Homo sapiens: one gene and its partners. The protein of the gene in region 4 interacts with the protein of the main gene of each other region in a biochemical or structural test. Each region holds a gene or a part of one and is shown on either strand. Other genes may lie near its edges. The genes, in order: FOXO3, SMAD4, KPNA1, SKP2, SIRT4, WEE1 and YWHAB.

The links.
Region 1: of the proteins of SKP2 (region 4) and FOXO3, one has a biochemical effect on the other in vitro, tested with the Homo sapiens proteins (one study listed by BioGRID).
Region 2: the proteins of SKP2 (region 4) and SMAD4 form a complex in vitro, tested with the Homo sapiens proteins (one study listed by BioGRID).
Region 3: the proteins of SKP2 (region 4) and KPNA1 interact in a test that uses a peptide from one of them, tested with the Homo sapiens proteins (one study listed by BioGRID).
Region 5: the proteins of SKP2 (region 4) and SIRT4 form a complex in vitro, tested with the Homo sapiens proteins (one study listed by BioGRID).
Region 6: the proteins of SKP2 (region 4) and WEE1 form a complex in vitro, tested with the Homo sapiens proteins (one study listed by BioGRID).
Region 7: the proteins of SKP2 (region 4) and YWHAB form a complex in vitro, tested with the Homo sapiens proteins (one study listed by BioGRID).

The regions. Positions count from the first base shown.
Region 1 is NC_000006.12:108,665,417-108,668,916, reverse strand, and holds part of FOXO3 (forkhead box protein O3), read right to left. Parts: intron 1-3,500. UniProt on the Homo sapiens protein: Transcriptional activator that recognizes and binds to the DNA sequence 5'-[AG]TAAA[TC]A-3' and regulates different processes, such as apoptosis and autophagy.
Region 2 is NC_000018.10:51,054,213-51,057,712, reverse strand, and holds part of SMAD4 (mothers against decapentaplegic homolog 4), read right to left. Parts: intron 2,933-3,500; coding exon 2,720-2,932; intron 1-2,719. UniProt on the Homo sapiens protein: In muscle physiology, plays a central role in the balance between atrophy and hypertrophy. When recruited by MSTN, promotes atrophy response via phosphorylated SMAD2/4.
Region 3 is NC_000003.12:122,508,440-122,511,939, reverse strand, and holds part of KPNA1 (importin subunit alpha-5), read left to right. Parts: intron 1-3,500. UniProt on the Homo sapiens protein: Functions in nuclear protein import as an adapter protein for nuclear receptor KPNB1. Binds specifically and directly to substrates containing either a simple or bipartite NLS motif.
Region 4 is NC_000005.10:36,169,111-36,172,610, reverse strand, and holds part of SKP2 (S-phase kinase-associated protein 2), read right to left. Parts: intron 2,268-3,500; coding exon 2,169-2,267; intron 1,009-2,168; coding exon 878-1,008; intron 1-877. UniProt on the Homo sapiens protein: Substrate recognition component of a SCF (SKP1-CUL1-F-box protein) E3 ubiquitin-protein ligase complex which mediates the ubiquitination and subsequent proteasomal degradation of target proteins involved in cell cycle progression, signal transduction and transcription.
Region 5 is NC_000012.12:120,308,821-120,312,320, reverse strand, and holds part of SIRT4 (NAD-dependent protein lipoamidase sirtuin-4, mitochondrial), read right to left. Parts: intron 1-3,500. UniProt on the Homo sapiens protein: Acts as a NAD-dependent protein lipoamidase, biotinylase, deacetylase and ADP-ribosyl transferase. Catalyzes more efficiently removal of lipoyl- and biotinyl- than acetyl-lysine modifications.
Region 6 is NC_000011.10:9,580,170-9,583,669, forward strand, and holds part of WEE1 (wee1-like protein kinase), read left to right. Parts: intron 1-1,362; coding exon 1,363-1,509; intron 1,510-3,500. UniProt on the Homo sapiens protein: Acts as a negative regulator of entry into mitosis (G2 to M transition) by protecting the nucleus from cytoplasmically activated cyclin B1-complexed CDK1 before the onset of mitosis by mediating phosphorylation of CDK1 on 'Tyr-15'.
Region 7 is NC_000020.11:44,902,705-44,905,868, reverse strand, and holds part of YWHAB (14-3-3 protein beta/alpha), read right to left. Parts: intron 2,972-3,164; coding exon of another isoform or gene 2,951-2,971; exon of another isoform or gene 1,877-2,950; coding exon 1,753-1,876; intron 902-1,752; coding exon 738-901; intron 1-737. UniProt on the Homo sapiens protein: Adapter protein implicated in the regulation of a large spectrum of both general and specialized signaling pathways. Binds to a large number of partners, usually by recognition of a phosphoserine or phosphothreonine motif.

The DNA of each region.
Region 1 (3,500 bases), on a different chromosome or scaffold from region 4:
CTGACCTCATGATCCACCCGTCTCGGCCTCCCAAAGTGCTGGGATTACAAGCGTGAGCCACTGCGCCCGGTCTTCAAGTTTAAAATTATACATACTATGCACCTTTAAAACTTGATGAGGCTGTCTTCTTTTGACAAATGAGAAACCTAATATTCTACAAGATTGAGTGATGTGGCAGAGACAAGAAGTGAACCACCCCTCCCCTCTCCATCTGGGCTTTTGCTGGTGGATGCTTCCCAGTCTTTATGTAAAGTACTTTAAACTAAATATTGGGCTGCTCCCTAATGGTGTCTCCAAATGTCAAAAGATGAAGATGAATGAAAGTTTGTGAATGCAGGCATCTTTGATATCAAATTAAGGTGAGACTGAAGCTGGTTTCCCTCAGAGAGGACACATGTCGAACTCAAGAAGGCTTACCGGAAGCTCGAGCTTGCAGCACCACACCAGCTCATGACCATCTCTGCCACCAACTGTAAGCACATGCACCAAGCTTTATGAACACCTGAGAGAACACAGTGCCCTTCACGACCCAGCAGCCAGCCCTCCAAAAAAGTATGGCTATTTTTTCTTTTCCAGATAGACCTAAGGGTCAAAGAATTCTACACGTGGTCTAAAATGAATGACGTGTGAAACACCCAGCCCGCCAGAGAAGCATCTTGCTGCAGCTCCCCAGCAAGACTGCCTGTCAACTGAGCAGACCGCTCCATTAACACAAGGCGGCTCAGATTCAGCATCACATGACCTTCTTCTGTGAGCAAGCCAGGAATTCAGTCTGGAGAAACACTAAGAAGTTAAACCAAGAAAGTTATTAGAGAGCAACTCTTGGGAAGCTGGGACAGTTAATTTGAGAGAAGCAGGGTGTCAGAGTCTGACCTCAGCCTCGTTCTGTGAATTTAGGAGAGTCTTCAATGAAGTGACAGTCACAGTTAAGTTTTAAAGTAAAAAATACACTTCAGGTTGCATGTGCTCCTGGCTGCTGAAAGAACAATGGATTCTAAGCAAAAATGGAAATCCTAAACCAGAAACTAGATCCCCTCACAGCCCCCACTGTCCTTTGGATGGTTCTTTAAATGCTCTGTGGTCATACTGAGCTAGTCTACTTTCAGGAAAATTTGGTGACTTTTCATTTTTAGCTGAAGAAGTTATCTTCTCAAAACAACCTCCCCCAAAATATTCTGAGGCGAAGATGACCCTAAAGCTTCATTAGGATATAACAATGAAATGCATTATCCTCAATGCAGTCATTTATTATCATCACCAAAATCAGAGTTCACCAGATAAACTTTAAAAATCTAAGTATTTAGATCTCCCTTAATTTTCTGTACAATCCTTTAGAATTACACATATACGAGAAAGATCTGCTGTTCAACCAAAAGGGAAACCAACACTTGAAAAATCAGACAAAAACTGATACTACATTGTCTTCTGAACACATATTTTCCAACGAACTAGAAAGTGGCCTCCTTACAATTACACTCAAATTAAAACTTACTTGTGTCTTTAAAAGCCTATTTTTAAAGGAAGACAAACCATTTATTCTTTTAAAAGCCAAACATCTACATTTCTAAAGACAAATCTTCCATATTCTTCTCCTTAAAGGAAGACAAACTAGTCTTCTAAAGGCCAAATATCTACATTTCTGAAGTCAAATCTCCACTAGCCCAAGTTCTGGTATGGAACTGAGCTGGCTGGCATGGAAGTACTACCACCCTACTTAGCTTCCATTACAGTCTTTTCACCATCTCAAGGGCTATTAAATGACTGAAATCAGATATCTGAGTTCCATTAGGGGTCTCTTAGGCCTGAGAAAGTTGAGAGGCTTTAGCATCACAACACTCTTAACATTCCCCTTTCTGCAACCACCCGTGAGCTGGAGTGAGCTCACCATAGGAGACCCTTGTTAAGTCCTTCATCATGGCAGAGGGTTAAACAAGGCTCAAGTTTTTACAGCTTTGAATTCCCTTGCTTTTTACACCACTTAAAGAAGCCTGTAAGTAGCTTGCTGAGACTAAAACAAAACAAAGCAAAAGGGCTGGGGCACGGAACAGAACCTGTTAACATCGAGGTGGCTAGGGGTGCAAACCTGTTGGTAGAAGATCCCAGTGTTCATCTTACTTCTTGAGGAGGAGAGTTTTTAGGGAAAGCTTGTCTATCATCTGCTACTTTGACTCCAGTTCAGGGCACTTCCCTCCCCTCCCCGCTTTTTTTCTAACCAGCTAGAGAGAATAAGGAAGAACTACTATGGGGGTTCAAGCCATTTAAGAAATGAATCTAGGCCGGGCACGGTGGCTCACGCCTGTAATCCCAGCACTTTGGGAGGCTGAGGCGGGCGGATCACAAGGTCAGGAGATCGAGACCATCCTGGTGAACACAGTGAAACCCCATCTCTACTAAAAATTAAAAAAAAAAAAAAATTAGCCAGGCGTGGTGGCGGGCGCCTGTAGTCCCAGCTACTCAGGAGGCTGAGGCAGGAGAATGGCGTGAACCTGGAAGGTGGAGCTTGCAGTGAGCCGAGATCGCGCCACTGTACTCCAGCCTGGGAGACAGAGCAAGACTCCATCTCAAAAAAAAAGAAAAAGAAAAAGAAAAAAAAAGAAATCAACCTAGCTCTGTAACCTTGGGCAAACTACTTAACCTCTCTGGGCTACCTGCTTGCCCATTTGTCAGTATACCTAGTTGCATGGTACATATTTCAGCCTACTGCAGTTTCACATGCTTTAGTGCATTTGATTCTTGTAATAACCCTGTGAAGTAATGGGGGCTATTATCCTCATTTTATAAAACTGGAAGTTGAGACTCAGAGACCTAAGACACAACCATAGTGGTAGCAAGAAAGTGGTAGAAGTGGGCCTGAACCTCAATTCCTGATTTCAATCAAATGCTTTTTCTTACATCACACTGCCTGATCTTTGTGGTTCTGAGAACATTAAAATGCCACAATTGAAAAAATCTCCATCACCATTCACAACCTGTGTCACTCTATGTTTGGAAACTGCTGATATCATTTATAGTTTGGTGAACAAGCAGAAGCACACGAGTAAGTACTCCCTCATACAAACACCTGTGTTTTCAAATTAATTTTTTGGCTTTTTTTTTTTTTTTTTCTAAGAGATAGGTTCTTGCTTTACCACCCAGGATGGAGTGCAGTGGCACGATCATGACTCACTGCAGCCTCAAACTCCTGGGCACAAGGGATTCTCCTGAGAAGCAGGGGCTACAGGTATGTGTCACCACACCCAGCTAATTTTTTAAGTTTTCTGTAGAGACAGAGTCTTGCTATGTTGCCCATGCTGGTCTCTGACTCCTAGCCTCAAGCAATTCCTGCTTCAGTCTCCCATAGTTGTGGGATTATAGGCGTGAGACACTGTGCCTGGCCTCTTACTTTTTTAAAGGTTTAGCTCTTGAGTGCTAGCTAATAAAGATGCTTAGTACTAAGATAAAGAATAATTAACAGATTTTGCTTCTGTTAGAAATATTCATATATGAAAGAGTCTAGAATA
Region 2 (3,500 bases), on a different chromosome or scaffold from region 4:
AAAATTAATCACTATCAGCACTGATACTAGTAATGGCAGAATGCTAGGGTTTGACAGAGAAAAGCAGAGCAGAAAATTATTTTAAATAGGATGTGATAGTGAAGATGAGGAAGTTAAAAAGATCTAGCTCTGCTGTCCAATCAATATACCATTTACTGGTTAAAAACAAACAAAAAAACTATCAGTCTACTTTCAAATTTTTTCAAGAGCTTTTATAAACCAAGAATCATTTCTTTTCAAGAACACCATCATATTCCCAGATGTACAAGAAATTAATTGCCCTCTCTGTATGTAATATACCAAGAGAATCAAGCTTCTCTTGGCTTGTATTCTATTCAAAAACCATCCTATGATATTGCTTACTGTCCTACATTTTTAAGGCTTTTTTTTTAAAGTGGAAATTTGGTTTCTTAAAGAGCATTAATTAACTCGACTGTTAATCCTATTTGGAAAGCACTAAAGTTATAATTATTTATAACTGGCATCACCTCATTCTTTTCTAAATGGGAGTATAATCAGATGGAAGAGAGTAACATGTCACCATTGCTCAAAGTATCAAAGAAAAGGAATATTTTTCTTTTCTTTACATATCACATTTCCTTAAAGCTAAGAATTACAAAACCAAAAGCTAAAGAGAATATTTCAATACTCCCCAAATTATTTATCTGTAAAAATGACATTTTAGCAACCTCCCTTCCTACTCATCCCCCAGATTCTGCAAGTTATCTTTAAAGGTTAATTATGGTTTTGTTCATATTTTTAACAATTCTACAGGCAATACTCTTAGCTAACTTACAAAAATTGTCATTAACTACACAGGATAAATTATTTTAATTTACAGGTATTTAAAAGGAAATTCTTAAAATATTCAGGTGTCAAAAGAACATAAATTGTAAAGTGACTCACTGTAGTTATCCATACTGAATACTTCCCTTATACAATTCTAAGTATGTAAAATAAAGTTAAACAATACGACTAAATCAGCTCACGTAAAATAGCCTTTCAAATCTTCTATTTTAGTTCAACTTCTTTTCATCAATATACTTTTTGAGACCTAAGGGAACCCTCTTTTTTTTTTTTTTTTTTTTTTTTGGAGATGGAGTCTCGCTGTGTCGCCCAGGCTGGAGTGCAGTGACTCGCTCTCTGCTCACTGCAAGCTCCGCCTCCCGGGTTCACGCCATTTCTCCTGCCTCAGCCCCCGGAGCAGCTGGGACTACAGGCGCATGCCACCACATAAGGGAACATTTTGACACAAGTTCTAAAACTTACAGTATTTACGGTATTCGATTATTAAAATCTACCCAATAAATACCAGGATAAAATTAGCTGCATTTCATTTCTATCACTTTTTCTAATCTTTGAATAGGATTCAACCTCAGGAAACAACACAGTCAAAATGAAGTCACTTTAGTAAGCATTGACAAAGGCACAGAAATTCAATCTCCAGATAATATAAACAGAAGTAGGTAGCTGTGCTCTAGCACTAATCTACGTTCAAGTGGCTATAATGTACCTTCTTTTATTTTCTATCACTACCCACTGTTTGTCAACCATATTCCTAATTTGGTAAATAAAAAGTAGACAGATAATAGAAGCACCAAGTGATTAAGGAACTGGGTTCTCAAGTGCTTAACCTATATGACCCATTTAGAATATGCTGCCTATAGTGAGACTGTCATCTCTTAGATAGCAAACCAAAAACATGTTGCTTTGAAGTGGTGTAATGAATTAAAGGGGAAATTCTGGTATACTTCACTTGAAAACTCACAATTACAGAAATCAGTCCCCCATTTATTCCAAAGATCAAAATTTCTATGTTGAATCTAATCTGATAGTAAAGCAAATACAATAATGGTACTTTCGGTAGCAACTAACACAGTATTAGCCCAGAGCTGTCAAAAATCTATTCTGATGTGGGTTTACATAAATTCCTTTAGCAACTGCATGCAACTAACACCATACACATGCCAAGACAATGCTCTATGATTAATTGAAAAAAAAAAAATGAAAAAAAAGCTACTTCATTTGCCAAGCAGCAAACTATCAAACCTTTGGTTACTGTGAAAATAAGTAACAGAACCAGGTCATATGATCATGCCCCCAAAAACCTGAACCTAGCAGCCCCTCTCCCTCCTATGACATGGCAGAAAAGAAGGATCTTTCTGAAACACTTTTTTTTTTTAATTACACATATATTTTAAAAAGAGATATAGAAGTTAGCTTATATCAAAATTGACTTAATTAATGTCTATCTTGAGCAATATATAACAAATTTGTCAAGATCCCTTTGCACAGTGAGAAAATCAGACAACTACTATAAGGTAATATTGTCCCAGAAAAACCAAAATAAGAACACCGCATTAAAAGAAAGGTTGCAATTCCATTAACACAGACCTTCATAAACATCTTGGATCAAAACTACTTGTTAATTATTTAAATATTTCTCCAAAATATATCTGGGAGCTTAAGAGGCTACTTACTGCTACATGTAATAGTAAAGTATAAATCAGATCATTAATTTAAATCAATATTATAATCAAAGCCATTACTTAAATTCCAAGTGATTGTGCATACCTGTTTAATACCTGTTTACCTATGAAAGATACTACAGTTACTTTTAATGTTTACTTACTTGGAGTTTCCCCCCAAGTGACTACACATAAATAAGCAATGATTAGGAAAACTCAACTTGCTGACTACATCTGATTCTAGAACTCACTTGTGGAAGCCACAGGAATGTTGGGAAAGTTGGCAGTGCTGGTAGCATTAGACTCAGATGGGGCTAACAGAGCTGGGGTGCTGTATGTCTCTGTCGATGCACGATTACTTGGTGGATGCTGGATGGTTTGAATTGAATGTCCTTCAGTGGACAACGATGGCTGTCCCTCAAAGTCATGCACATATTCATCCTTCACCATCATACTTGATGGAGCTATATAGAAAATTAAACATATTTTAAATTTTTATAAGCTTCTATTCCCAGAAAAAAAAATCTTATTAGCAAGTAATATAATAACACCTAAAATCAATTACAGTGTAAATTACTAACCTTAATTCAGAATTTTTTCATATTATTTTAAAAGCATACTACTTTACCAGCAAAAGTCATTTATTCAGCGGTAACAGCATGAGATATATTTTATCAATCAATCTGACTCTCAAATTTGAAGCTAGTCTATGTTTCAACAGCCTCCAGCAACAATCCTAAAAAGGTACTCCTCAGTTTCTTGATAAACCTAGAAGAATAATCACCTAAATACATAAGGCAGGCAAAAACCGAATGGCTGGAAAATGTGTCCAGCTGAGAAAAACAATTATTCGGTCTAAATAGAGACTGAGTATTTAACTATATCTTTTTGTTAATTTCACACTGTGGAGATATGAGTGGGATCTGATAGATATCCAATCCCAGGATCTAGAATTATTGTTAAGCAACATATTCTTTAAAAATGAAGTGTACTGAATGTAATGTCCCCTATAGGTTTAGAACCAAACGGAAA
Region 3 (3,500 bases), on a different chromosome or scaffold from region 4:
GTGTTTTAGCACAGTGTTTGTTGAATTAATGATAAAATAGAGTTTTAATGATTTATGATGTCTGTGCTTTTAAGTCTACCAGATTGTTTTTAGATGTATGAGTACTGTGTATAAAATCAGTTAAGACCTTTGATTGGTCTTGCAAGTAAAGATGACTGACCTAGTGATAAAGATAACTCCTTGTTTTGTTTTAAGGTATCTTTGTACTTTGCATGGTGTTATGAATTTAGCCATAATAGGGAAGAAAACACTGGAAATGGTAAACAGTTAAATTAGCTGATTTGGGCTGATTTCTGTCTTTTGCTGCAGTAAGCAGGAGATGGCCTGAGGCCAACTGAGGGCCAGATAGGGCCTGCATTAGAAAATTTTGAGGTTGTACATTGGAAGAGTAGGGATGAAGACTGTGGGAATGTATGTTTCTTTCTTTCTTTTTTTTAAAGATGTTACAAACCTACAAAACAACATGAAAAAATGGTTCTGTCCAAGTGTTGTAGACTAATTGGGACAGTTCTTGAAAGCAGGCAGTAATCCAGAATGTGGATAATGGAGATAATCTCCTTCATATTAACAAGAATAATGCTGCCCTTCATATACAAAGATAAGTCTGCTTACTCATCATGATTGTTTTTCCAGCGTGAGGAGGGATATGTGCTGAGTCCATGAGTGCCTATATACTCTGTGAGCAACAAGGCAGGTTGGGGTCAGAATAGGCAGCTTGGGGTCAGAATAGGCAGCTTGGGGTCAGCTAGGGAACAGAAAGACCCGCTGAAAGTACTCTGACATCTATTGATGGGTCAGGTTCTGCATCAGGTGCTTTCACTTACTTGTTCTTGCAAAACCATTTTGAGGAGGTGATTACGTGTGCAAGGTGATTGGGTAACTCGCCTTACTTCACAAAGTAGTGGAGTTGGGATTCAAATAGGGCTGTTTGTACTGTGTTCACATTGATCGTTAAAGATTGGTTTTAGCCGTTCAGTCTCTTTGGCAGAACAAACTAGATGTAGTTTAACACCATGAAATAATACTGAAGATCTAATATAACCGTCGTGAGATTGTTCAAGTTCCTTGTTTTATCAACATTAAAAAAATAAAATTTTGGAATTAGAATACCTGAAAAGCAGCTGTTCCCTGTCCCAGCCTCTGCACTTGAAAAGCTACCATTTTCTTTCTTCTAGCTGTTTCCTCTTGTGTTTGCTTTCATATTTATAAATACAGTGACTTGCTTTTATTGCTATATCATGATATAGCAATTATAGATATTATTGGCTTTCGTCTAAGCAAGATGTTCCTTAGTGTTTCACATATATATTCACCTCACCTGCCATATGCACACACTGTCTCTACCATCCTCCAAATATAGTTATCACAGGTGTGTCTACTAAACCAATATTTAGTGTTTACAATATTGTAACTCTATAAATGTTCACAGCTGACCCATGTAGAGTACTGTGATATCATTTCTTCTCTTAATAAATTTTTGTTTTTCTACAAGTTAGTATTTTTTGTTGTTGTTTGCTTCATTTCCTGAGACAGCTAACCTGGAACCTCTTAATGCAATTAGGACTGGTTACTTTCTAGGCCTATTTCATAGTTGTTATCCAGGGACTTCTCTTTTCATCATCCTTAAACTTCTTTGCCCTCTTTTGTACTGGTTCCCCTGTTTACTGTTTCCTGTATTTTCTTTCTTGGTTTACTTATTTCCTTGGAGTACATTTTTTAGTAGCTTTCTGAGAAAGGATACATGGAAAACAAAAACTTCCTGACATCTTACATGACTGAAAAAAATCTTTATTCTTCCTTCGCATTTGATCAGTAATTTGTCTGGGTATAAAATTCTGAGTTGAAAGTAACTTCTACTTCAAGTTTGCAAGTCATAGTTCTATTGTTTTCTTTCTTCCAGGGTTACTCTTGAAATCCAAAGCCAATCTGATTCTTTGTTTGTATGTGATCTTCCTTTACCCCAATCTCTAGAAGCTTTTAGGATATTTTTAACCCTCAAAATTCCATGATGATGTGTCTAGGTATGGGTATTTTTTTGTTTAAGGGCATTCCATGGACCTTTATAAGCTGGGAGTTCATGTCCTTTAGTTCTCGAAAGTTTTTGTTATTATTTGGATGTTAGGCAAAAAGAATTTTAGAATGAATTATGCTTCTCAGTTCTTGTCACACATCAGATCGTACAAGGTCCTTTAAATTTTTATCTTAAATTTCTGAGCCCTACTTCTGTTACCTCTTTGTATAACATTGTGGTTGGTACATTCCTTGATTATATATGAAACATTGTAAAATATGTAGTGGAGCTGTGTATGTTTAGGTATTGTGTTATAGACCTTGCAAAGGTCTTTTTCTTTTTTATTCAACATTGATTTGGGGATCTTTCTGTTTTGTTGTAAGTATGTATAGTTGTGTCTAATGTAGAATTCTGTAATGCAGATCTACCACATTTTACTTTTCATTCCCTAGGAATTGATCCCTGAGTTGCCTTTCTGCTATTTCAAATACCCTGTGTTATATATACTCTTGTACATTATTATAGACCTGTATAGAAGTTCTCTAGGATATATACCCAAGATTGTGATTCCTTGGGCATAGAGTGGGAGAATTAGTGTATGTGCCTACTTGAGTGCTTGAGAGTTCTTTTTTGCTCACATGTTTGCCTTTACTTGGTTTTATCTTTCTTTTTTTTTTTTTTGTTTGATAGAGAGTCTTGTTCAGTTGCCCAAGTGAGTGCAGTGGCATGATCTTGGCTCACCGCAACCTCTGCCTCCTGGGCTTAAGCCATTGTTCTGACTCAGCCTCACGAGTAGCTGGGTTTACAGGGGCCCGCCACTACGCCTGGCTAATTTTTGTATTTTTAGTAGATACGGGGTTTCACCATGTTGGCCAGGCTGGTCTTGAACTCCTGACCTCAAGTGATCCACCCTCCTCGGCTTCCCAAAGTGCTGGGATTACAGGCGTGAGCTACCGCGTCCAGCCTCTCATTCTTATTTTATAGTATATTTGTGTTGTTTCATAGATGCTGTATTCTTTCTGGGGATATTAATGATAGTTTTAAAAATTTTGTTACCATTGTTGTCTTTTCTTTATTGAGGCTTTCCCCAGATGTCTGGTAGTCTTGTGGCTGTCCATTCATATTTAAGAATGAAGTGCCAAAAACTGAATTGGAAGCTCTATTAAGTGTGGCTTGTTGAAGGGTGAAGAGAGTAGCTGGTGGCCATTTTTTTTGTGGTGGGTGGAGGGCATATACTCATAGGTTTGTTTCTCTTGGGCTAGTCAGTTTCCCTGAGAGTCTCCAGTCTCTTGCCAGGAGAATGTGTGTCTGGCTGCCATGTTTTGAGAACTCATTTTAGAAAAGGAGCTTGGGTTTTTACTGTTGTGCTCATGTAATTCTGTTATCAATAAGGCACCTCACCCCCACCCTCACCTGCATTGGAGCACCCATTTGAAGGGATTACTGAAGGATGGTTGTCTGGTTGTGAAGAGTGGAGGAGGAAATCTGG
Region 4 (3,500 bases):
TAATAAACAAAACACACTCAAATAAGCTAGTACTAACATCAAGATATGGTTGATGTGTGTTGCTGGTTTAACTAGGTTTTGTAGAGCCCACAAACTGAATGTTGGCCTGAGACGGTGAAGCCATTTAAAAAACTTGCCATTTGTAATCACTTATCTTTGCAAATCAAGATTTTCTCATTAACATACAAGTAAAATAAAGCGTAACTGAATATTAAGGTTTTTAAAGACTGCTCCCTGCTACCTTTGACTTCTAATGCCTGTTTTCATCTAAAAATCCTCGTTGCCCTCTTGGACTGAATAAAAAGTAAAAGTCATAAATATGAACTTATTAACAGAGTTTATAATAGTTTTTCAACCTTGGAACTGATGTTTGGACCAGATTATTGTGCATGCTATTCTCCATCCTATACACCGTCCACCAGCATCCTGGCTTCCGCCCATGAGAGACCATCAGCACTCCTACAGCTGTGACAATAAAAAATGTCTCCAGACATTGACAAATGTCCCCGTACAGACAAAATAGCCCCTAATGAACAACCACTACTTAATACTAATCAAATGCTACATTTATGTATTTTTATGTTGGGGTTTACCTAACCATTTAGTTGATTAAAAGTTTTTCTGCTTAAAAATACATTGTTTTCAAGTGTAAAGGTTTCTACTGTTAGATCCTGAATTCAAACCTTGGCTCTAGCTCACTAGCTGTTTACCTTTACCTAACCATTCTGATTAGCAGCTACCTCATCTGAAAAAGGGGACTAACACATGCACTGGATTAAATGAGAAAACTTATGTGGAGGAATGATTAGGAGAAGCTCAATGAATCTCATCTATTATGTTGTGAAGGCCTCAGTGGTCCAGGCTTGGAAGCTCTAACCTGATTTCTGGAGATTCTTTCTGTAGCCGCTAAGATTCAGCTGGGTGATGGTCTCTGACACATGCGCAACAGCCACCTGTACATGCTTTTCAGTGAAATCAAAACACCAGGAGAGGTTCAGCTCATCCAGTCTGCACAAAAGAGGGGTAATAAACAAAATATGAAACCATCACACGGGAATGAGTTTGCCTCAAACTGCAAACAAAGAAAATATAAAACCATGGATTCCTTATCATTTCATGCACAGAACACCTGCTTCTCTAACAGTAGCTACCTTTAGTCACCTAAGTATACCCTGTTTGCCCCTGAAAGTTGCCAGGGGATCAGAAGGGCCTTAGTGAATGTGCCTCCTCCTCGAAATGGAGAGAAGCACCTGATGGCTCAAACCTTATTCCAGTACTGCAGGTAGAAATGCCAGTCTTTTATGTTTGCTTTCTCAAACTACCAACCACCCAACACAGACTGAACAATCACTCAGGATGTTTTACGCAATTGATGGATTGCACTGAGGATTCCTAATAAAGAGATGCTGATATTGCAAAAAGCCACTTCGTCTTACTGTGCTTCTGCTAACTGAGCAAAAACGAGGGTTTCAGAGACAAAATACAACCATTAATCCCCACTCCCCACTTCTGGCACTGCTGACTAAATATAGGGCTATACATTTGATCTCACTGATAACACGCATATCCAGAGGCAATCTATTTTAAATGGACCATTAACAAGACACAGATTCAAATGCTGTACCATGGAGACCAAGGGATATTTTTAAAAAACACACATATGCCTAGTACTGTGTATTCCAAAAAGCATGTACTCCCCTCACTTAGCAATATCTGTAACTCTGTACCCTTTATGTGCTGACATTATTATGAAAGATATTGTTAATAGAATTGCCCAAATTTACGGTCTATATTTATAAAACACCAAATTTGATAAAAAATTGTAAGTTAGGTCTACAGATACCATAGGGGAAAAAACCTGAATGTACAGTTAAGTGTGAGCAAATTTCTTACAACCATACTGTTGATAGACACTACTACACTTCCCTTATTTTAACAGTTCCAAATAAACAAAAAAGAGATCACTATACAAGTATCACTTGCAAACTCAATTGACTTGGCTCCTGAGTTTGGACAGAAAGTTAGGAGGGCAAAAGATTTTGCATTCACCAAATCAAGAGCCTGGAAAGTACAAAAAGCTCAAAAAGTTCATCCCATTTTATACAGATGTGAGGGATAATTTTACGTTTGACATAAGAGTCTATAATCAAGTCTCACATCTTTCATACCTGGAACAGCTGCTTAGCAAAGTCTGCAGGGCAAATTCAGAGAATCCAGAACACCCAGAAAGGTTAAGTCGCACTAAATTTGAGTTTTTTGCGAGAGTACTGGAAAAAGAGAAAAACGTCAGAAGAAAAAGACCAGTAAGACACTATTCATCAACAACATTTAGATGAAAGCAGGCGAGTGTAGTTAAGCTCACAGGTCTTTGAGTCAGTGAGTTTAAAATGTATATCACTATCTCTCAGACATCAAACAGGATAATTTGCCTCAGTTTACTCATTTGTGAAATGGTATTATCAAACTTCTTGGCAGAGTTATTAAGAAGATTAAATGATATAATGTAATAAAAGACTTACTATGAAGCAAATACACAAGAATATCAATCAATGTACTTTTTGAATTAAAAAGACAATGGAATAAACATATATCCATTTCACCCATAATTAGAATTAGCTTGCAAACATCTACTTGTAAAATCACCAGGTTCTTTTGATTATACATCTCTCAAATTTGCCATCTTCTCTAATACATCCCCAAATGCCCTGTGTTAGTAAAACTTAGTGATTAAGAGTAAGAATTCTGGAATATTGTATCACTAGGTTCACATGTTGGTTCAGCCACCTACTAACAATGTGACCCTGGAAAAGACTTACTCAGTCTCCCTGTGTCTCAGTTTCCACAACTATAAAAAGGAAACAAGATCACACTTCATAGGGTTGCTGTCAGAATTAAATGAAAATGCATTTACAAAATTCACTATCTGGCACATAATACATGCCCCAAAACATTAGCTGCTATTACTGCTATCTGTTTTATATCAGACTTCACCTTTTCTCACTTGAACGAACACAGCAGTATCCTTAACTACTCTAGCTTCTTCTATCCTCGATGGACCCTCCATGGTACCTGGCAAGTTAATTTCCTAAATTTCAACTCTTGACTTGTTCCTTCCATTCTCAGAACAACTCTCTCCACCATCCTTCCCTTTTTTTATTTTTTTTTCAGATGGAGTTTTGCTCTTGTCACCTAGGCTGGAGTGCAATGTTGTGGTCTCAGCTCATGGCAACCTCCGCCTCCCGGGTTCAAGCGATTCTCCTGCCTCAGCCTCCTGAGTAGCTGGGATTACAGGTGCCTGCCACCACACCCAGCTAATTTTTGTATTTTTAGTAGAGACAGGATTTCACCATGTTGGCCAGGCTGGTCTCAAACTCCCAACCTCAGGTGATCTGCCCACCTTAGCCTCCCAAAGTGCTGGGATTACAGGTGTGAGCCACCACACCTGGCCCATGCTTCCCTCTTAATGGAAGAGTCCAGTCCATTCTTCTTACAGCAAGGCG
Region 5 (3,500 bases), on a different chromosome or scaffold from region 4:
TAGCCATACTTTCTATTTTATTTTTTTTATTTTTGGAGACAGGGTCTGGCTGTTGCCCAGGCTGGAATGCAGTGGCACGATCTCAGCTCACTGCAGCCTCAACCTCCTGGGCTCAGGTTATCCTCCCACCTCATCCTCCTGAGTGGCAGGGACTGCACTACAAACACGCGCCATCTCGCCCAGCTAATTTTTGTAGTTTTGGTAGAGACGGTGTTTCACTGTGTCGCCCAGGCTGGTCTCAAACTCCTGGCCTCAAGTGATCCTCCCTCCTTGGCCTCCCAAAGTGCTGGGATTACAGGTGTGAGCCACTGCGCCCAGCCCATCAATTTCCTTCCTATACACTCCTTCCTAACCTTCTGCTATAGCTCACTTTTATCCTTAACATGACTGCAAATGCCTTGCCTGCTGATTTCCTTAATGCCCAAACCTGCGTTTTTCCCTCTATACTTTCCCTTGCTCATCTGCTGAATTTGCCACTGTCTATTACCATTCCTTCTAAAATGCTTCTCCTTCTTGGTTTCCAGGACACAGTGTCTCCTGGTTCTCTTCTCACCTCTTTTTTTTTTTTTTTTTTTTTTTTTTTTTGAGAGCAAGTTTCACTCTCATTGCCCAGGTTGGAGTGCAATGGCATGATCTTGGCTCACCGCAACCTCCACCTCCTGGTCTCAAGCGATTCTCCTGCCTCAGCCTCCTGAGTAGCCGGGATTACAGGCAGGCTCTACCACACCCGACTAATTTTTTTTGTATTTTTAGTAGAGACGGGGTTTCTCCATGTTGGTAAGGCTGGTCTCAAACTCCCGACCTCAGGTGATCCGCCTGCCTTGGCCTCCCAAAGTGCTGGGATTACAGGTGTGAGCCACTGCACCTGGCCCCCCTTCTCACCTCTCCAATCACCAGAGCTTGAGCCAGTGAGGGAGAGCACTTTGTGTCTGTTTTTATTTTTTTATTTTATTTTTTATTTTTTTGAGACGGAGTTTCACTCTTGTTGCCCAGGCTGGAGTGCAATGGCGCGATCTTGGCTCACCGCAACCTCTGCCTCCCAGGTTCAAGCAATTCTCCTGCCTCAGCCTCCCGAGTAGCTGGGATTACAGGCATGCACCACCACGCCCGGCTAATTTTGTATTTTTAGTAGAGACGGGGTTTCTCCATGTTGAGGCTGGTCTCGAACTCTTGACCTCAGGTGGTCTGCCCGCCTTGGCCTCCCAAAATGCTGGGATTACAGGCATGAGCCACTGCGCCCGGCCTATTTTTTTTTTTTTTTTTTTTTTTTTTAAGAGACAGGGTCAGGCTGGGCGTGGTGGCTCACGCCTGTAATCCCAACACTTTGGGAGGCCGAGGCGGGCGGATCACGAGGTCAGGAGATCGAGACCATCCTGGCTAACACGGTGAAACCCCATCTCTACTAAAAATACAAAAAATTAGCCGGCCGTGGTGGCGGGCGCCTGTAGTCCCAGCTACTCGGGAGGCTGAGGCAGGAGAATGGCGTGAACCCGGGAGGCGGAGCTTGCAGTGAGCCGAGATAGCACCACTGCACTCCAGCCTGGGCAACGAGCGAGACTCCGTCTCAAAAAAAAAAAAGAGACAGGGTCTTGGCCAGGCGTGGTGGCTCTTACCTGGAGTGCAGTGGCATGATCATAGCTCACTGCAGCCTCGAACTCCTAGGCTCAAGCAATCCTCCTGCCTTAGTCTTCCAAAGTGCTGGGACTACAGGTGTGAGCCACCACAACCAGCCTCATTTTTCTCCTTTTAGTTCTAGTCAGCCATCAGATTATGTTGATTTTCTTCTCTTAAAAGAACCCCTGTGGCCAGGCATGGTGGCTCACACCTTGTAATCCCAGCACTTTGGGAGCGTAAAGCAAGAGAATCGCTTGAGCTCAGGAGTTCCAGACCAGTCTGGGTAGACAGCAAGACGCTCTCTCTACAAAAAAAATTTTTTTGGCTTGTCTTTGTTTTTTGAGACGGGGTCTTGCTCTGTCGCCCAGGCTGGAGTGCAATGGCGCGATCTCGGCTCACTGCAACCTCCGCCTCCTGGGCTTAAGCGATTCTCCTGCCTCAGCCTCCCGAGCAGCTGGGATTACAGGCGCCTGCCACCACGCCCAGCTAATTTTTGTGATCTGCCCACCTCGGCCTCCCAAAGTGCTGAGACTACAGACGTGAGCCACCACGCCTAGCCAAAAAAAATTTTTTAATTAGCTGGAGTTCTAATTACCCAGGAGTTCTAGGTTACAGGGAGTTATGATGGCACCATTGCACTCTAGCCTGGGTGTCAGAACCAGACCCTGTCTAAAAAAGAAAAAAAGGCCAGGCCGGGCACGGTGACTCACACCTGTAATCCCAGCAATTTGGGAGGCCAAGATGGGTGGATCAGTTGAGGTCAGGAGTTTGAGACCCGCCTGGCCAACATGGTGATACCCTGTCTCTACAAAAATACAAAAAAATTAGCCGGGTGTGGTGGTGCACACCTGTAATTCCAGCTACTCAGGAGGTTGAGACAGGAGAATTGCTTGAACCCAGGATGTAGAGGTTACAGTGAGCCAAGATCATGCCATTGTACTCCAGCCTAGGTGACAGAGCAAGACTTCATCTCAAAAAAAAAAAAAAAAAAAGAAAGCGGGCACAGTGGCTCATGCCTGTAATCCCAGCACTTTGGGAGGCCAAGGCAGGCAGATCACCTGAGGTCAGGAGTTTGAGACCAGCCTGGCCCAACACGGTGAAACCCAGTCTCTACCAAAAATACAAAAATTAGCCGGGCATGGTGGTGCATGCCTGTAATCCCAGCTACTCAGGAGGCTGAGGCAGGAGAATCGGTTGAACCCGGGAGGTGGAGGTTGCAGTGAGCCAAGATCTCACCACTGCTCTCCAGCCTAGGCGACAGAGTGAGACTCTGTCTCAAAAAAAAAAAAAAAAGAAAAGAAAAAAAGGCCCCTGTGAAATGTCAAGAAGTCCTGGATTGTTTTAAAATGCTTAAGAAGAGACAGAATGGATAAAGTAGACATGACAAAATCTTGATAAAACCTTGGAATCTGGGTGATGGTATATGAGAATTCATTATACAATTCTCTTTACTTTTGTGAAGTTTGAAATTTTCATTATTAAAAGAACAGATTTTCTTCATGAAAAAAATTGTGAGTTTTTTTTGAGACAGAGTTTCACTCTTGTCGCCCAGGCTGGAGGGCAATGGCACAACAGTCTTGGCTCACCGCAACCTCCGCCTCCCAGGTTCAAGCGATTCTCCTGCCTCAGCCTCCCGAGTAGCTGGGATTACAGGCATGTGCCACCATGCCCGGCTAATTTTTTGTTGTTCTTGTACTTTTAGTAGTGACAGGGTTTCTCCATGTTGGTCAGGCTGGTCTTGACTCCCGACCTCAGGTTATCCACCCGCTTCGGCATCCCAAAGTGCTGAGATGACAGGCATGAGCCACCACGCCCGGCGGAAAAAATTGTTTTAATGAATCCATAAGCATCATTAACTCAAATTCCCTGGATACCACCTTAGTCTA
Region 6 (3,500 bases), on a different chromosome or scaffold from region 4:
CAGGTATGCTCATGCATTGACAATGGGCATATATATTGGTACAGCCTTCTCTGTGGAGAAGAGTGTGTGTGTGTGTGTGTGTGTGTGTGTAAAACACACCATCTCCATATATTACAAATGTGCATACCCTTTAACCCAGCAATTTGGCTTCTAGGTGATATACTAAATGTACGTGAAATTACCAATGTACAAGGTTATTTATTAGGCCATAGTATGTAATAGCAAAGGCTTGGAAATAATTTTAAAATGTCCATCAAATGAGGGACTGATAAATGCATTTCTTTCTTTCTTTCTTTTTTTTTTTTTTTTTCGGGGGACTGAGTCTCACTCTGCCACCAGGCTGGAGTGCAATGGCCCGATATCGGCTCACTGCAACCTCCGCCTCCCAGGTTCAAGCAATTCTCCTGCCTTCTGAGTAGCTGGGATTACAGGTGCACGCCACCACACCCAGCTAATTTTTGTATTTTTAGTAGAAACGGGGTTTCGCCATGTTGGCCTGCATGGTCTCGAACTCCTGACCTCGTGATCTACCTGCCTCGGCCTCCCATAGTGCTGGGATTACAGGCGTGAGCCACTGTGCCCAGCCAATAAATGCATTTCTACTCAATTATACAATGGAATTCTATAAAGACAAGAAGAAATGGGTTGTCTTTGTATATTGGTATAGAGTGATCTTTAAGATAATGAACATATGCTGTTATTTATGCAAAAAGTTGAAAAGAATACATAGACCTGAGCTGGGCGTGGTGGCAGTGCCTGTAGTCCCAGCTGCTTGGGAGTCTGAAGCAGGGAATTTGAATTTGGGTTTGGGAATTCTAGGCTGTAGTGCCGATCTATGTTGAGCATCTATGCCGATCTATGCCGATCTAAGTTGAGCATCAGTATGGTGACCTCTGTGGAGTGGGGCACCACCAGGTTGCCTAAAGAGGGGTAAACTGGCCTAAGTTGGAAACAGCACAAGTCAAAACTCCTATGCTGATAAGTAGTGGGATCAAGCCTGTGAATAGCCACTGGATTCCAGCTGGGCAACATAGATAGACCCTGTCTCTTATAAATTAAAAACAAAAACAAACAAAAAAAAAGCCAACCTGATAATACTGGTTTACTCTGAGAAAGAAACAGGTGGATTGCTGAGGTGTATGATTGAGAGAGAGACTTTACATTTTATTTTGTACCCATGCAAATGTATTACCTATTGAAAAAACAATAAAATTTTGATTTCACAAGCAGGTTGAAGGGAGAAGGTCCTATAAAATAACACTTTCTTGGTTGAGATTGGTTGGTTGAGACTCATTTGGTAAAGATGGAAGAAAGAAAATATTTCAGAAAGAAGAAAATGCTAATATTTTCTATCTTTGTTAGGTGGAAGTTTAGCTGATGCTATAAGTGAAAACTACAGAATCATGAGTTACTTTAAAGAAGCAGAGTTGAAGGATCTCCTTTTGCAAGTTGGCCGAGGCTTGAGGTATATTCATTCAATGTCTTTGGTTCACATGGATATAAAACCTAGTAAGTATTGCAGATCTTCTGACCTGTGTTCTTTGGGGTTATAGAGAATAAATTACTTCATTATGACAACATTGAAAAAATATATATCTTCTGTTTTCTCATTGTTAGTTTTAAAAGGCCTTAGATCCACTTACCAATATTGTTTTATGATTTCTATTCATCTCTTCCCTTGTTAATCCCCAAAATTTGAGATAAACTTTTTTGAGACAGTGTCTCATTCTGTGGCCCAGGCCGGAATGCAGTGGCACCATCTCCGCTCACTGCAACTTCCCCATCCCGTGCTCAAGCAGTCATCCCACCTCAGTCTTCCGAGTAGCCGGGACTATAGGCATGTGCCACCATGCCCAGATAAATTCATTTTTATTAAAAGCCAGAAATTTTTGCTGCATCTTACAGGAACTACAGGTGGGATACTAATGAGGGCACTAAAAATCTGTGTTTAAAGCCCCACTCTTCCACTAGGCCAGACCATATTAAAATTTCCCCAGTTGACTCAAGTCCTTAATAGTTGATTTGTTCAAATTAGTATCTACTTAAGGATCATGCATTGCATCTGGTTATATCAGTTTTTCTTTTTCAGAACCCATCCTCTGCTTTGTAAAAATAATATACACTTATCTTGCAAGCTATCCCTTTTTCTGGATTTGACTAGTTGCTTCTTGTATCATTTAGCTTGTTCCTTTTTCTCCTATATTTCCTATAAATTGGAAGTTATAACTAAGGATTATGGATTCAAGTTAAGCATCTTAGGCTAGATGAATTTAGTGAGGTTTTATTAATCTTTGGAAACCTGTTGATTTGTGAGAATTTCAGTCATTTTGTACAACTTTATGAGTTATATGCTAGAATTTCATATGCGTATGTTAACAAGTCACTAAAGTTTCTTCTTTCTTTTTTTCTTTTTTTGAGATGGAGTCTCGCTCTGTTGCCCAGGCTGGAGTGCAGTGGCACAGTCTCAGCTCTCTGTAACCTCTGCCTCCCACGTTCAAGCGATTCTCCTGCCTCCGCCTCCCGAGTAGCTGGGATTACAGGCATACACCACCATGCCCGGCTAATTTTTTGTATTTTTAGTAGAGACGGGTTTCACCATGTTGGCTAAGCTGGTCTTGAACTATTGACCTTGTGATCTGCCCACCATGGCCTCCCAAAGTGCTGAGATTACAGGCGTAAGCCACCGTGCCCAGCATGTTTTTTATTTTCAAAAGACAAAAATATATTTGGATTTAAGGCAGTAAATGTGAATTCTTAAGGAATAGCTGTACTCATATAAAGTGTTAGACAAATATAATAGACCCTTATAAGGTATAAAAGTTGAAAATATTAAGGGATGTGAAGTTTAAAAATCTTCAAATTTAGACCAGGTGCAGTGGCTGACGCCTGTAATCCCAGCACTCTGGCAGGCCAAGGCAGGCAGATCACGAGGCAGGAGTTCGAGACCAGCCTGGCCAATATGATGAAACCCCGTCTCTACTAAAATTACAAAAATTAGCCAGGTGTAGTGGTGCGCACCTATAGTCCTAGTTACTCGGGAGGCTGAGGCAGAAGAATTGCTTGAACCCGGGAGGCGGAGGTTGCAGTGAGCCGAGATTGCACCATTGCACTCCATCCTAGGCAACAAAGTGAGACTCCGTCTCAAAAAAAGAAAAAAAAAATTCGCCGGGCGTGGTGCCTCACGCCTGTAATCCCAGCACTTTGGGAGGCTGAGGCGGGTGGATTGCCTAAGCTTGGGAGTTCACCACCAGCCTGGACAACACGGTGAAACCTCGTCTCTACTAAAATACAAAAAATTAGCTGGGTGTGGTGGCAGGCACCTGTAGTCCCAGCTACTCTGGAGGCTGAGGCAGGAGAATTGCTTGAACCCGGGAGGAGGAAGTTGAAGTGAGCTGAGATCGCACCACTGCACTCCAGCCTGGGCGACAGAGCGAGACTGTCTCAAAAAAAAAAAAAAAAAACCTTCCAATTTACAAATACCATCACAAAATAAGTTGTCC
Region 7 (3,164 bases), on a different chromosome or scaffold from region 4:
TGTCTGTTAGCTGTTTCCAGCAGAAGTATAAGGCATATTTACAAAGCACCAACCAACAATGACAGAAACTCCAAGGTAAGAACTTTGCTGTACCTAATAACTAAGCAGTATTACTGCTAACCCTAGCACAGTCATTCTGGGCAAACGCGTGTGATTTTTTAATTACCAAAGACTTTTCTAGCAATCTTCTATTTAAAATTATTTATTTATTTAAACTAAAACTCAAAATGTCTGGAAACTCACATCACTAAATCTGATTTAAGTGACGGAACTTTAAGGCACCTTTCCCGAATAAAAATGTTTTTAAAAAGTTGTGTGCATGTTGAGGGACTATAAAAAATATGTAGAGAAGGCCAAAGGAAGAATATGGAAGGTAATCCAACACACAACAAGAATGTGCTGTGTATTTCTTTTATACAACTATAACCTCAAATCTTGGCATGAGAATGACAATGTATAACCAAGGCCCAAAGCTTGGTAAGAAACAACTAACTACATTCACCTGGAACTTTCTACAACCACCCGCAAAAAACAGTAATCAAACAAAGTCAGCAGAAGGTATTGAGAATGAATTAAAAAAGTAACAGATCTGTATTTATCTCATAAAAGATACACTCCCACCCCCAGAAAATCTTTCAAAAAAAGTCCAAGACAATGAGTATGTTCAGGAATAAAATGAAGTTAATAACACAAGCACTGTTTTGCTATGGTTAGATATCACAAAGGGTCTTTCTCACCGTTTTTGCCAGGCTACAGGCCTTTTCAGGAGAGTTTAGAATCTCATAGTAAAAGACTGAGAAATTTAGTGCCAGACCAAGACGAATTGGGTGTGTAGGCTGCATTTCTTTCTTACTAATTTCAAATGCTTCCTGGTAAGCCTGCTGGGAGTTCGACACAGTGGCTGTAACATAAAGATGAAAATATTAAAGGCTCGGTTCTTTCATAGGTATCACACATTGGACCAACTATCAAATTATTTTCTCAGTCCCAAACTGGGCAGGAGCAATGACCTATCAAATGAAGTGTCAGTGTCTCTGCCATTCAATTATACATTTGTTAGATATTTATTCTAAACCAAGTTGTATATTAAATGCTTTGGGGGAAAACAATTATGACAAAGTCTACTAAAGCAGTTAAATACAGCTATAACCTTTAACAATATAGAATGTGAAAAACCATACATTCTAGTGCAAACATCACAGGCTTTAGAGTCGATAGATCCAAACTTTAATTCCCAACTCTTACTCCCTAGGTCTGTGGCTTGGGGCAAGTAGAAACCTCCATAAACCTCAGTTTATATGAAAAATGGGCAGCCTGCCACCTAACTCGTAAGGCTGTGTGAAGAGTAAGTGAGACTCGGAAGTACTTGGCACAGAAGCACTTAATAAAGTGTGGTTAAGATTACCACCATCACGGTAATACATGTGATAAATGCAATGCATCACTAGGGTAGTTTCGTACCACCAAGTATAAAAAGTTCACTGCTAAAAAGAGAGCTAACAAATAATACTCAAGATAAGATCTTTTTAAATACACTGCGCACCAGGTTTGTAATGCCCTCCATACTTCCCTGTCAGATAAATTTTTATTTGCCCGCCCATGACCCCGTTCGTCACAATGCTGTGGTCTTTTAAATTCTTAGTACTGTGACATTGGTGTCTATGGCGAACAAAGCAAAAATCGTTAAAAAGTCCCTGTGAAAGAAGACTGGCTCCATTACTGGTCGAATTTCTTTTTAAAGATATTACTTACTTTGTTTGTTGTCTCCAGATGCCACTTCAGAAAGATACCTAAAATAATCTCCTTTCATTTTCAAGTAGAACACCTTACTTTCTGGTTGTGTAGCATTGGGAATAAGATATTTGTCCAACAGCTCCTAAAAAATGAACATTGTTAAGAATTTAGAATTATTCACGAGATGTTAAAACTATGTTTGAGATTCAAGATATACACTACTGCTTCTAAATAATTTTTTGGAAGATTAAAAAAACACCAATTTTTCATCCAAGCTACTAAATGTTGTTTAGCCCAGGTCATAACAGCAGATGCCTGTATTCTTCTGTTAAAAATCACTTTGACCATCCATAGGGGATAATTAAAGTATAGCCATATAATGAAATGTTTTGTAGGCCTTTAAAATGATGCAGAGCTAAACAGATAATGGAAAGGCTCTCAAAAGAAATCTGAGTGGAAAAAAAGCAGATTATAAATACCACAAGAATCCTATTTTAACATTAAGATACATTTGTGTACATGCTCACAAATATATAAGGGAAAAGCCTGGAAGGAGTATGTTAATAATGGTTCTCTGGGTGGTAAGATTAGAAGTGATTTTTACTTTCTTATTTATATTCTTCTGACTTGTTCCCCCCACCATTTTTAAACCCACAAACTGGTATTACTTCTATAATTAAAGGGGAAAAAATATCTTTCCTTAGGAGGAAAAAGGTGATAATAGAGCAAAACTGCCAAGAACTAAGTTTAAAGTCAATCTGACCTGGGTAGAAATCCCTCTTCTGCCACTTATTATCTGTATGACTCTGGACAAATTACCTAATCACTTTGAGCCTCACTTTCCTCAGCTATACGAAGGGTCATCTTCTAGGGTATAGCCATCTTCTAGGGTAGTTATAATGATAAATAAGTTGACATACATAAAGCGCTTAACACGTTGCCTGGCACGTAGTAAGCACTCAAAGAGTAGCTAATACTATTAATAATAAATTCCTTTAAACATTTATGCTTACAACAAAAGTAGTTCTGAAGGAGTCCAAGCTTCGTATACAGAGCAATATTTTCGAAGAGTTGTTTTAGAATGTGGCATCCTGAAAAACTGGTTAAGAGGCAGTAAGTACCAAGCTCTTCTTCACATTCTTTCAGATGCTCTTAAAAGTTGGTCTACATTTCATGAATTATGGAACTTTCTTGCCCTTGGAATGCATGACATACTTCATCTGAATACCAGATGTACCTAACATTCAGGAATTAGTGCACCATTAACAAACCCCCAAATTACCAACAGGCAACAAATTTAGTCATGACACTCTTACGCCATGAGTCTAATAAAAAGAGAAGCTCAATGCAAAGCTTAGTTATAAGGGGATTTAATCAACCAAAGTGAGAAGATGCAGGGGGCGGCAGTCGTTTTAATATTCTTTGTAGAC